Linked DNA regions of Homo sapiens: region 2 is linked to region 1. The links come from fine-mapping of genetic effects on gene expression. A gene starts in region 1. The other region holds a variant in brackets. All regions are shown on one strand. Distances are between the middles of the regions. Region 1 holds the start of WRN (WRN RecQ like helicase). Region 2 overlaps WRN (WRN RecQ like helicase).

The links. PIP is the estimated chance that this variant, and not a neighbour inherited with it, causes the effect. A credible set is the group of variants that fine-mapping cannot tell apart.
Region 2: its variant is the best candidate, but not a certain one, in a credible set for the expression of WRN in whole blood (TOPMed, PIP 0.63).

What each region holds. Positions count from the first base shown.
Region 1 is chr8:31,031,310-31,036,834 of GRCh38, forward strand. It overlaps WRN (WRN RecQ like helicase), which reads left to right and starts at 2,501. Exons shown (of 35, transcript NM_000553.6): 1 at 2,501-2,664. PURG (purine rich element binding protein G) reads right to left here and starts at 2,047. Exons shown (of 2, transcript NM_001323311.2): 1 at 1,769-2,047; 2 at 1-1,479. The coding sequence starts at 1,473. The coding sequence ends at 430. RefSeq lists silencers at 2,029-2,078, 2,239-2,498, 3,469-3,538 and enhancers at 2,254-2,775, 3,609-3,658.
Region 2 is chr8:31,128,082-31,133,081 of GRCh38, forward strand. WRN (WRN RecQ like helicase) reads left to right here. Exons shown (of 35, transcript NM_000553.6): 24 at 4,284-4,425. It also overlaps the pseudogene SUMO2P16. Among named protein-coding and RNA genes, the nearest start is that of WRN, 97 kb to the left of the region's middle. The variant A/G (reference allele first, on the strand shown) is at 1,988.

The sequences.
Region 1 (5,525 bases):
TAACTGCCCTACAGGTAAGCTTAGCAGCTTTTAATGAAGTAGAATTGAAATACTTTTGGGGGAAAGTCACACTTCTATTTAAGTATATGTATCTTTTTTCGGGATTATGTCATAGTGCAATGTAAATCTTAGTTATGGTATTTAGAATGTCAGAATGTCACATTTTGTGCTGATTTGCATACTTCAATAGTCTGGAGCAGTTGAAGCAGCTAAACTATTTAGCTCTGGGAAGGTTGGAATTCCCGTAAGAATTATAGTGATCTATGTGTAACATAACATGAGAATCAGACTTCCTGAAGTATCAACTACTAGAGGTATTACTAATAACAACGGGCCAAAAAAGAGGAAAAACTTCTTCAAAGGATAATGGATCAGTACTTTTAGCCAATTTGTGATTTTAAATTTTGCCTGATGGAGTTCAATTTCACTCTAGTCGAGGCATTCTTGTTCTTCACCACTGGCCTTTCTGCCATCCATTCTCTTTTCTTTATGGCTGTTGCAAATTTTCCTCATCTCTTCTTCATACTTGATAAAATTCTCCCCAAACCTTGTCCAAGCTTTGAATGGAACAGTAATAGTATTACGGTAAGGTGGTCTCACCTCACTTACCTTCAGGAAAATTCCATATTTATTAGAGCCCACATCAAAGTAGAACCTTTTATTGTCCACTCTGAAAGAAGTCCCCTCTGGGAGTTCAAGCGGGTCATCGTCTCCACCTCTTCGTTCTTCTATGTCTCCTTCGCCATAGTCTTCAATCAGCTGAACCAAGGCATCACGAAACTCAATCATTCCTTGTGCTGGGAGGACAATAGTCTGTTCTTGGCCCAAACTGTGGCCAAAATAACCTATCATGCCAGTCCCCCGCATCATGGTTTGTCTAATCCGTAGGAAGCGACCCCGCTGATTTTCCTTTAGGTCTAGGTAATATTTCCTATTGTCCCTCTCGATATAGTCTGTTTTCAGGACACTGTGAGGATGCTCTTCGGACCCCACCGAGACTGGTGGGGAGGGTGCCGAGTGCTTCTGCCTCCTTCTGGAGCCTTGCTCTTTGCTGTGGCCATGCTCTTGCCGGTGGCCTTTCAGGCCCAGGTGGGCATAGTGCTCGATGAAGTCCCCTAGACAGTCCTTCAGCTCCGCTGCCACAGACAGGGAGAGGGTCAGTTTACTCTTTCTGATGTTGTCCTGCCGGCCTCTCCCTATCCAGACTTCGGCTATCTTTAGGAAGCGGCCCCGGGAGCTTTGCTTCACGTCTAGGTAAAACCTCTTTTTCTGGATGTCCACTCGTTTGGAGGCCAGCTCCTGGATTTCGGCTGCGCCCCCGGCCTGATTAGGGGTGGCTGAGGCCGCGTAGTGGGGGTAGTGGGAGTGCTGGGCCTGGGGATAGAGTCTACTCTTGCTTAGGCCAGAGCCCCCTACATTCTTGCCTCCGCGGCCGCGGCCGCCGCCGCCTCCCCTTCGCCTGGCTCTTTCCATCTTCAGCTGCAAGTAACAAACAGACACACGGGATGGGGTGGGGGAGGGGTGTTGAGAACAATCGCAGACGCCCCTCGGCCTGACCGCCCCGCCGCCGCCCGCGACCCCCACGCCGGGCCCGGCTCCCCCGGCGCCGCAGCGCGGGGCTCCAGCCACTGCCGGCCGGTTGGCGGCCGCCGCTCCGGCTCTGCCCGCGCTCCCCGCATCCCTCCGCCGCCCCCGGGGCCGCTCCCGCACGCCGCCGCCGCCCGTCCCGCGCTCCGCGGCCCCAGGTCTCCAGCCGGCGGGCACTCACATCATCTCTGCCATCACCGCCGCCGCCGATGCCCTTCACGACCACCGCCGCCGCCACCGCCAGCTCTCGGCCCCTCTGCTGCAGCCGCCGCAGCCGCCGCCCCCCGCCTCCTCCCCCGCCGCCGCCGCTCGCACTGCCCCCCGCCGGAGCAGCCGGGCAGGGGCATCGCCCGCGGCGCCCACCGCAGCCGCCCCTCCTGCGGCCGCTGCGGGGGCCGCCGCCTGACTTCGGACACCGGCCCCGCACCCGCCAGGAGGGGAGGGAAGGGGAGGCGGGGAGAGCGACGGCGGGGGGCGGGCGGTGGACCCCGCCTCCCCCGGCACAGCCTGCTGAGGGGAAGAGGGGGTCTCCGCTCTTCCTCAGTGCACTCTCTGACTGAAGCCCGGCGCGTGGGGTGCAGCGGGAGTGCGAGGGGACTGGACAGGTGGGAAGATGGGAATGAGGACCGGGCGGCGGGAATGTTCTCACTTCTCCGGATTCCACCGGGATGCAGGACTCTAGCTGCCCAGCCGCACCTGCGAAGAGACTACACTTCCCGAGGTGCTCAGCGGCAGCGAGGGCCTCCACGCATGCGCACCGCGGCGCGCTGGGCGGGGCTGGATGGGCTGTGGTGGGAGGGTTGCAGCGCCGCGAGAAAGGCGAGCCGGGCCGGGGGCGGGGAAAGGGGTGGGGCAGGAACGGGGGCGGGGACGGCGCTGGAGGGGCGGGTCGGGTAGGTCTCCCGGAGCTGATGTGTACTGTGTGCGCCGGGGAGGCGCCGGCTTGTACTCGGCAGCGCGGGAATAAAGTTTGCTGATTTGGTGTCTAGCCTGGATGCCTGGGTTGCAGGCCCTGCTTGTGGTGGCGCTCCACAGTCATCCGGCTGAAGAAGACCTGTTGGACTGGATCTTCTCGGGGTAAAGTGTCTTCCTATTCCCGTTTTCCCAGCTCCGTGCCCCGGGGTATCTATAGTGCTAGGCTTCTGAGACACGTGGAGGCGCTTAGGCCCGCGGAGCAGGCCCCTGGGCTGTGTTTGGGAGATTCTGGAAAAACAGACTTTCTCCCTTTTCCTTTCCCCTCTGGAGCAGCTGGGAAAGGCGTCTCTCGGAGCTTCCGCCATTCAGAAAGTGTTTCCCCGCCCCTGACGGCCCCAGCTTGATGTTTACCTTGCGCGCTTAGTTAGGATTGCTCTTTCTAGTACGGCCTTTATTATGGCAGAAATTGAGCCACTACAGGTCTGCACAGCAAAGTCGAGGGAAATAACCTGCTGTCTATGATTTAGCAAGTGATGATGGATATTTTTGAGTTCAAATCACTCAGTCTTTAATGGATTTTCTTTTCTTTTTTTCCTAGTTGAATCTCAGTTGTTCTCAGGCTAGGTTTGATATGAAAAATACTACTCCCTATTGAAGAGGGTAATATAATTCTTAGGATGCTAATACAGGAGTCTGTAAGTCGGAGTACTTCAGGCTTTTTATGGTTCGGTACATTTCTTTTTAGGGGTGGGATATTGGGATAAGTAGGACAGTTCAGATCTTGATGTCATTGAATAGTGGTGTCTACCTAAAAGGAAGAGGCTGGGGCACAAAATTATAATTTAAAGTGTTTACTTCAGCCAAAATGAGGACAGCTGCCCAGGACTCATTTCCCAGTTGCCTTGGGGAGTGCTCCTTCAGCCTTGGTTACAAGCAGGTTTTTAAAGGCGAAGGGGAAGAGTGGGCTGAGACAAAGTTGGTCAGGAATTGTTATTGGTTTACAGAGATACCATTGCTTAGTGATTGGCTGTACACTGTAACTCATAGGGTATGAGTTATCGTGTCCAGCATATGGCATTTTATGGCTTCTTGGTTCCAGTCTAGAGCCCATATAGCAGGTGGGCTTTAAGAGATAATTATCCAGCTCAGACCGGGAGTGAGACGGGACTGTTTTTTCATTCTAATGCCTCTCTGGGCCTGATAATTTAAAGGGGCTTGCATTCTTCAGCTAAAATTTTATTTTCTTTTATTTTTTTTCCCCCACAGTGGTCTCCCTTTATTAATCCAACAAATGTTTATTAAGGACTGCTCTAGGCACTAGAGATACCAACAATGAACAAAACAGACAAACATCTCTCTCCTTTTGGAGCTTACATTTTAGTGGAAAGAGACAGGCAAAAAGTAAAATTATAGGATGACAGAAGGTGAAAATAGAGATTAAAAAGGAAAGGGGGATGAAGAGTGTGTGTGTGTGTTGTGGGTGGGGGGCTGTAGGGAGCTGCAGTTTTACAATAAGTGGTCAGGGACGTCCTCGCTGAGAAGGGAATTTTTGAGTCCAGAGCTCAAGGAAGTGAGAGAACTTACCTTGACGTTCTCTGGAGGAGAAGAAAGTACAAAGGCCCTGGGGGAACCTGCCTCTTTATGTTCAGAGAGCAACTTAAGAGGCCTAGTGAGCTGGAGCAGAGCGGAGAGGAGGTCAGAGGTCAGGCCAGAAAGGGAAAGGGGCCAGAATGTGTAGGACTTTATGGGCTATATTGAAAATTGGGGCTTTCATTCTGAGGGAGATGGGAAGCTGTTGGAGAGTTGTTAGGGAAACGTGATCTGAATTATGTTTCTAAAAAATTGGAGTAAGATATCATAAAATTTGCCATCTTAGTCTTTTTTGTATCTGGCCAATTCCACTCAGAATTCTTTTTTAAACAGCTTTATTGAGATATAATTAATATATCATATGATTCACTCATTTAAAGTGTGCAATACAATGGTTTTTAGTTTGTCTTCAGAGTTGTACAACCTTTATCACAATTACCTTTAGGACTTTTTCATTACCCAAAAGAGAATCTCCATAACCATTAGTACTCAATCCCACCCGCTTTCCTAGCAATCACTTACCTATTTTTTTGTCTCTATATAGCTCTCAAACCCTATGATATTCCTTCTATCTAACTGTATTTTTGTACTCATTAACAGCCTCTCTTCATTCCCACCACCCATCCATCCCAGCCTCTGGTAATCACCATTCTACTTACTACCTCAATGACATCAAATTTTTTAGCTCCCACATATAAGTGAGAACATGCGATATTTGTCTTTCCCTGCCTGGTTTATTTCACTTAACAGAATGTCTTCCAGTTCCATTCATGTTGCTGCAAATGACAGGATTTCATTCTTTATTATGGCTTAATACTATTCCATTGTATATGTATATCACATTTTCTTTATCCACTCATCTGTTGATGGACAGTTAGCTTGATTCCATATTCTGGCTATTGTTGAATAGTGCTGCAGGAAACATGGAAGTGCAGATAGCTCTTTGACATACTGATTTCATTTCCCTTGAATATATACCCTGTAGTGGATTTGCTGGACCCGCTTGTAGTTCTACATTTAATATTTTGAGTTATTTCCATAATGTTAGTAATAATTTACATTCCCACCAACAGCGAGGAAGGAGTTCCCTTTTCTCCACATCCTCGCCAACACTTATCTTTTGTCTTTTTGGTAATAGCCATTCTAACAGGTGTGAGGTGATATCTCATTGTGATTTTGATTTACATTTCCCTGATGGTTATTGATGAGCAATGTTTCATATACTTGTTGGTTATTTGTATATCTCCTTTTGAGAAATGTCTATTCAGGTCTTTTGCTCATTTTTTAAATATGGTTTTTTAATTTTTTTATTTTTTTGCTATTGAGTTGTTTGACATCCTTAAACATTTTGGAAATTAACCTCTTATTAGATGTATAGTTTGCAAATATTTTATCCGATTCTGTAGATTCTGTCTTCAGTCTGTTGAATTTGC
Region 2 (5,000 bases), 97 kb after region 1:
TTAAAAAAAAAAACAAACTTAAAAATCCAGCAAATACATAAAGCACAAAGCCGACAGAAGAGGTGGAGAAATCAACAAATCCACCATCAAAGTGGGAGAATTTGATATAATTTTAAGTTATTGGTAGGGTAAACAATCCAAAAATTAGTACACTGTAGAAAATTTGGTCAACATAGTAATAAGTTTGCTTATTACTATTTATCAGTATACATAGTATACTGATTTATCAGATACATAGTATATGGAGCCCTAGAGCAAGCAACTATAGCAGTGTATCTCAAGTATTTTTACTTCATGACCCACATAGCAAATGATATGTGTATATAACACACTGGGCTAATTGTCAGAGTTCAGTTTCTGTCCAAAACCCTAAGATCTGGAGTGATTAACCTTTCAGCACTCTTAGAACTCACTTGTTTGTAGCACACTGATTGAGAAGCACTGAAAGACTTCACTCCTCAAACATACATGGAATATTTCTAAAAACTATGTATTGGGCCGGGTGCAGTGGCTCATGCCTGTAATCCCAGCACTTTGGGAGGCCGAGGCGGGTGGATCCCGAGGTCAGGAGATCGAGACCATCCTGGCTAACATGATGAAACGCCGTCTCTACTAAAAATACAAAAAATTAGCCGGATGTGGTGGCGAGTGCCTGTAGTCCCAGCTACTCGGGAGGCTGAGGCAGGAGAATGGTGTGAACCCAGGAGGCGGAGCTTGCAGTGAGCCGAGATCGCGCCACTGCACTCCAGCCTGGGCAACAGAGCGAGACTCTGTCTCAAAAAAAACCAACCAACTGAACAAACAAAAAAACTAAAAAACAAAAACAAAAAAACTATGTATTAGAGCATGGGTTGGCAAACTATGGCCTGTAGGCCAAATCTGCATGCTGTTTTATTTTTTTTTATTTTTTTGACATAGGGTCACTACAGGCTGTCACACAGGCTGGAGAGCAGTGGTATGATCATAGCTCACTGTAACCTCAAATTCCTGGGCTCAAGCAATTCTCTTGCCTCACCTCAGCTTCCCAAGTAGCTACAGGCATGCACTACCAGACCCAGTTAATTAAAACAAATTTTTTTTTGGTAGAGACAGTCTCAGTATGTTGCCCAGGCTGGTTTTCAAACTCCTTGCCTCAATCAGTCCTCCTACTTCAGCCTCCTAAAGTGCTGGGATTATAGGCATGAGCCATCACGCTTGACTAATGTTTTTGTAAATAAAGTTTTCTCAGAACACAGCCATGCCTTTTGTTTATGTGTTATGTAGGGCTGCCTGAGTTAAGTAGTTGGCTGCAAAGCCTATCATGGCCTATAAAGCCTGAAATACTTACTATCTGGTCCTTTATAGAAAGTGTTTTCTGACCCTGTACTAGACTAGCTTGTCTCAAAATTCTTCAATGAATTTGGAAGTTTTCTCACCACATTTTCTGACCATAATGCACTTGAGTTAGAAGTAAATAAGCAGATAAACAACAAAATCCTCATGCATTTGGAAATTAAAAATAACACTTAAATAATTCATATTCAAAGAAAAAATCAAACTGGAAATTAAAAAAAATTTTAAACCTACAGATAACTACATTAATATGCATTAACATTTTTAGAACTTAGGGATAGTTACAATGATATACATTAAAACTGGTAAGAGGCTGGGTGCGTTGGCTCACGCCTGTAATCCCAGCACTTTGGGAGGCCGAGGCTGGGGGATCACGAGGTCAAGAGATTGAAACCATCCTGGCCAACATGGTGAAACCCCGTCTCTACTAAAAATACAAAAATCAGCTGGGCGTGGTGGCACGCGCCTGTAGTCCCAGCTACTTGGGAGGCTGAGGCAGGAGAATCGCTTGAACCTGGGAGGCGGAGGTTGCCGTGAGCCGAGATTGGGCCACTGCACTCCAGCCTGGCGACAGAGCGACACTCTTGTCTCAAAAAAAAAACAAAACAAAACAAAAAAAAAAACTAGTAAGAGGGCCCAGTGGCTCACACCTGTC[A/G]TTCTAGCTCTTTGGGAGACTGAGGAGAGAGGATCAGTTGAGGCCAGGATTCAAGACCAGTCTGGGCAACATAACGAGACCGCATCTCTACAAAATTTTAATAACAACAACAAAAAAAACTGGTAAGAGGCAACATTGAATAGTACTTTGTGGGAGTTTATTAGCTTGAAATACTCATAATAGAAAAGAAAATTAATCAGCTAAGCATCTCACTAAAGAGATTAGGAGAATAAACCTAAGCATAGTTTTTTTCCCCCAAACATTATTATATCTGGAATATTGAATGCATTCTTATTGCTATTTCAAAGATACTTACTCTAAGGAAAGCAATTGAATTAGGTAGTTGAACTCTATAGTAGATTTTCTTTAATGAGTCCTTTTGTTCTCAACCTACTTAAATAATTCTCATTTGAATTTATGATAGTTTCAGATCTACCCAAAGGGTGACTTAGGAATTTAACTTCTAAATCTATTTAAATGAAAGGTTTATAATCTTTTTGTCATATTTTACAGTCGTTAGCGTTTAACAATTTATAGCATAGGATTTGGGTTTTTTTTTTTTTTTCATTTTAAAGAAGAAGTTTATTTAAGCAAGACACTTGACTAAGGGAAGACTATCTTGGAGTTATTATTACTAGAGTAATTTATTTCTACTTAAAGACAGATTGCCCCACAAGTAACAGCTACATAAAAACAGTTGTAAAATTGTCCTTGGTTTTACAATGATAAATGAAAAACATTAAAATTCTCTAATTGAACAAGGTATGCAAGGATTTTTATATTGTTTTTTGCTAAAACTATGACAGCAAAATAACATCCTGGAGTATAAAGATAAGAGCTGAATGAGCAGGCCACTAGGGGACAAAGGGAGTCTTTTCACAGAACCAATGCTTCTTTTGCCCACCCCATCTCCATCGAAGTCAATCTAAACATATTATTGGCCATTTAGTTAAAAAAAGAAAGAAAAGAAAAGCAATATGCTTGTGGACATACACCAGTTACTTTATGTGCAGTAAAAGAGTAGGAAGGGGAAGGTGAAAGAATAGAGAAAACTATGTAGTCAGGATGTGGTGGAACCAAATTGCAACTTTCTTTTTTTTTGAGACAGAGTTTTGCTCTTGTCACCCAGGCTGGAGTGTAGTGGTGGCCCAATCTTGGCTCACTGCAACCTCCGCCTCTCAGATTCAAGCCATTCTCCTGCCTCAGCCTTCTGAGTAGCTGGGATTACAGGTGCATGCCACCATGCCTGGCTAATTTTTGTATTTTTAGTAGAGATGGGTTTTCACCATGTTGGCCAGGCTGGTCTTGAATGCCTGACTTCAAGTGATCCACCCGCCTCAGCCTCCCAAAGTGCTGGGATTACAGGCGTGAGCCACTGCGCCTGGCCAAATTGTAGCTTTCTAATTGAGACTGTCTTCTTGGTCTGGAAGAGCAGAGTTCTGCAGTAAAATAACAGGTCCCCCTTTTAGTAGACATCTCCATGTCTGCTGCTGGAACACATCAGTTTTGTCTTAAGCCTCACTTCCAAATGTGCAGATGTGTCTGGTTCATTGATTGGCTGCCTGTCAAATTGAAACCTGATCTGCCTCATTGGCAAACCGTGCCCCTTACAATAGGCTTTCATTGGTTTACTAAGCGGTGTGGTGCGTGGCTGTTCATCTTAAACTGCACCACAGTTTAAGATGAACCTTCAAATGAACATTATCCTTGTTCTCAGTCTTGACTTTCCTTGGGCTTTTTGTGGACCCTGGTGAGTGTGGCAGTCTCCTCAGCTGCTGCTTCACAAAAGAGGTACCAGGTCTGCCCCGAATGAGTGAGCCCCTAAACAGGACCAGGAGTGGCAGAAGAAAGAGGCAGCAACTGAGATGTGTTTTTTCTAAGCTGAAAGGCTTTTTTTTTTTTTTTTTTTGCAACACACCTTTAACACTAAAGTCCAATATTTATATAATTGGTCAAGTAAGTGGAGCTGTTCTAGCTATAAATATGGCAACTCTGCTTGCTCGTCCTATTATTGACATTATTCCTTTCTGTGGTCTGAGGTGCCTCCCATGAAACTTGCTTCTAGGACACTAGGATTGAGAACCATCAGCGTAACATATCTGTTACGCTACAATAGTTTATTTTCATATTTTAGCTACTTTACATACTCGGGTATAATGAACTTTATTCATAGCTTCTGAAGCAGTTGGCACATTTGAGATATTTTTTACTTGGCTAATTGTTATGCTAAATCTTTTGATTTCTAAAGATACATGCCTTTGCTAAGCTTTCTTCAAATGTTATTATTTTTATTTAGATTGGATCATTGCTATTCCATGGATGACTCAGAGGATACATCCTGGGACTTTGGTCCACAAGCATTTAAGCTTTTGTCTGCTGTGGACATCTTAGGCGAAAAATTTGGAATTGGGCTTCCAATTTTATTTCTCCGAGGATCTGTAAGTATATATCTGTGAATTCCCTTCATAGATCTTCTTTTACTTCTATTACACTTTTCTTCAGAGGTTTGCAGTATTATGATTGTAGCTTTGACTTCAGATGGGTGACTAGGAACTCATAGAGTCTTACTAAGTTCCAGTTAAACACTACATTCATTACTTTGGATAAAACCCGTGTGTATGGCATCTTCTGCTGTTTTCATGTTCAAGCCGATGTTCAGCTCTGCAGCTCAGTCTGGAAGCATTGTGTTAATTTATCACATTGCATTTGGGTGAATCCCTAGACTAGTCTTGCTTAGGATAATTAGGAAAAGTTAACTTTCATTGTATCAAGGGACAGGTAGAACAAAATTGTCCTTTTGTCCAGGAAACCATTAAATTCTTCAAGGAAAACTTTAGTTATAGGGATTATTTTTTAAATGTCTAATTTCAGTAACAATATTTGGGACATATTTATTTTTCCTTCTGTTTCCTATCAGAAGTATTTAAAGTTATAAGAAAATTGTGGTTTTTGCCTTTACTAATGAATAAATAATCAATTAAATTCAGTTACTTTTTTTTGGAGTGATTGATGT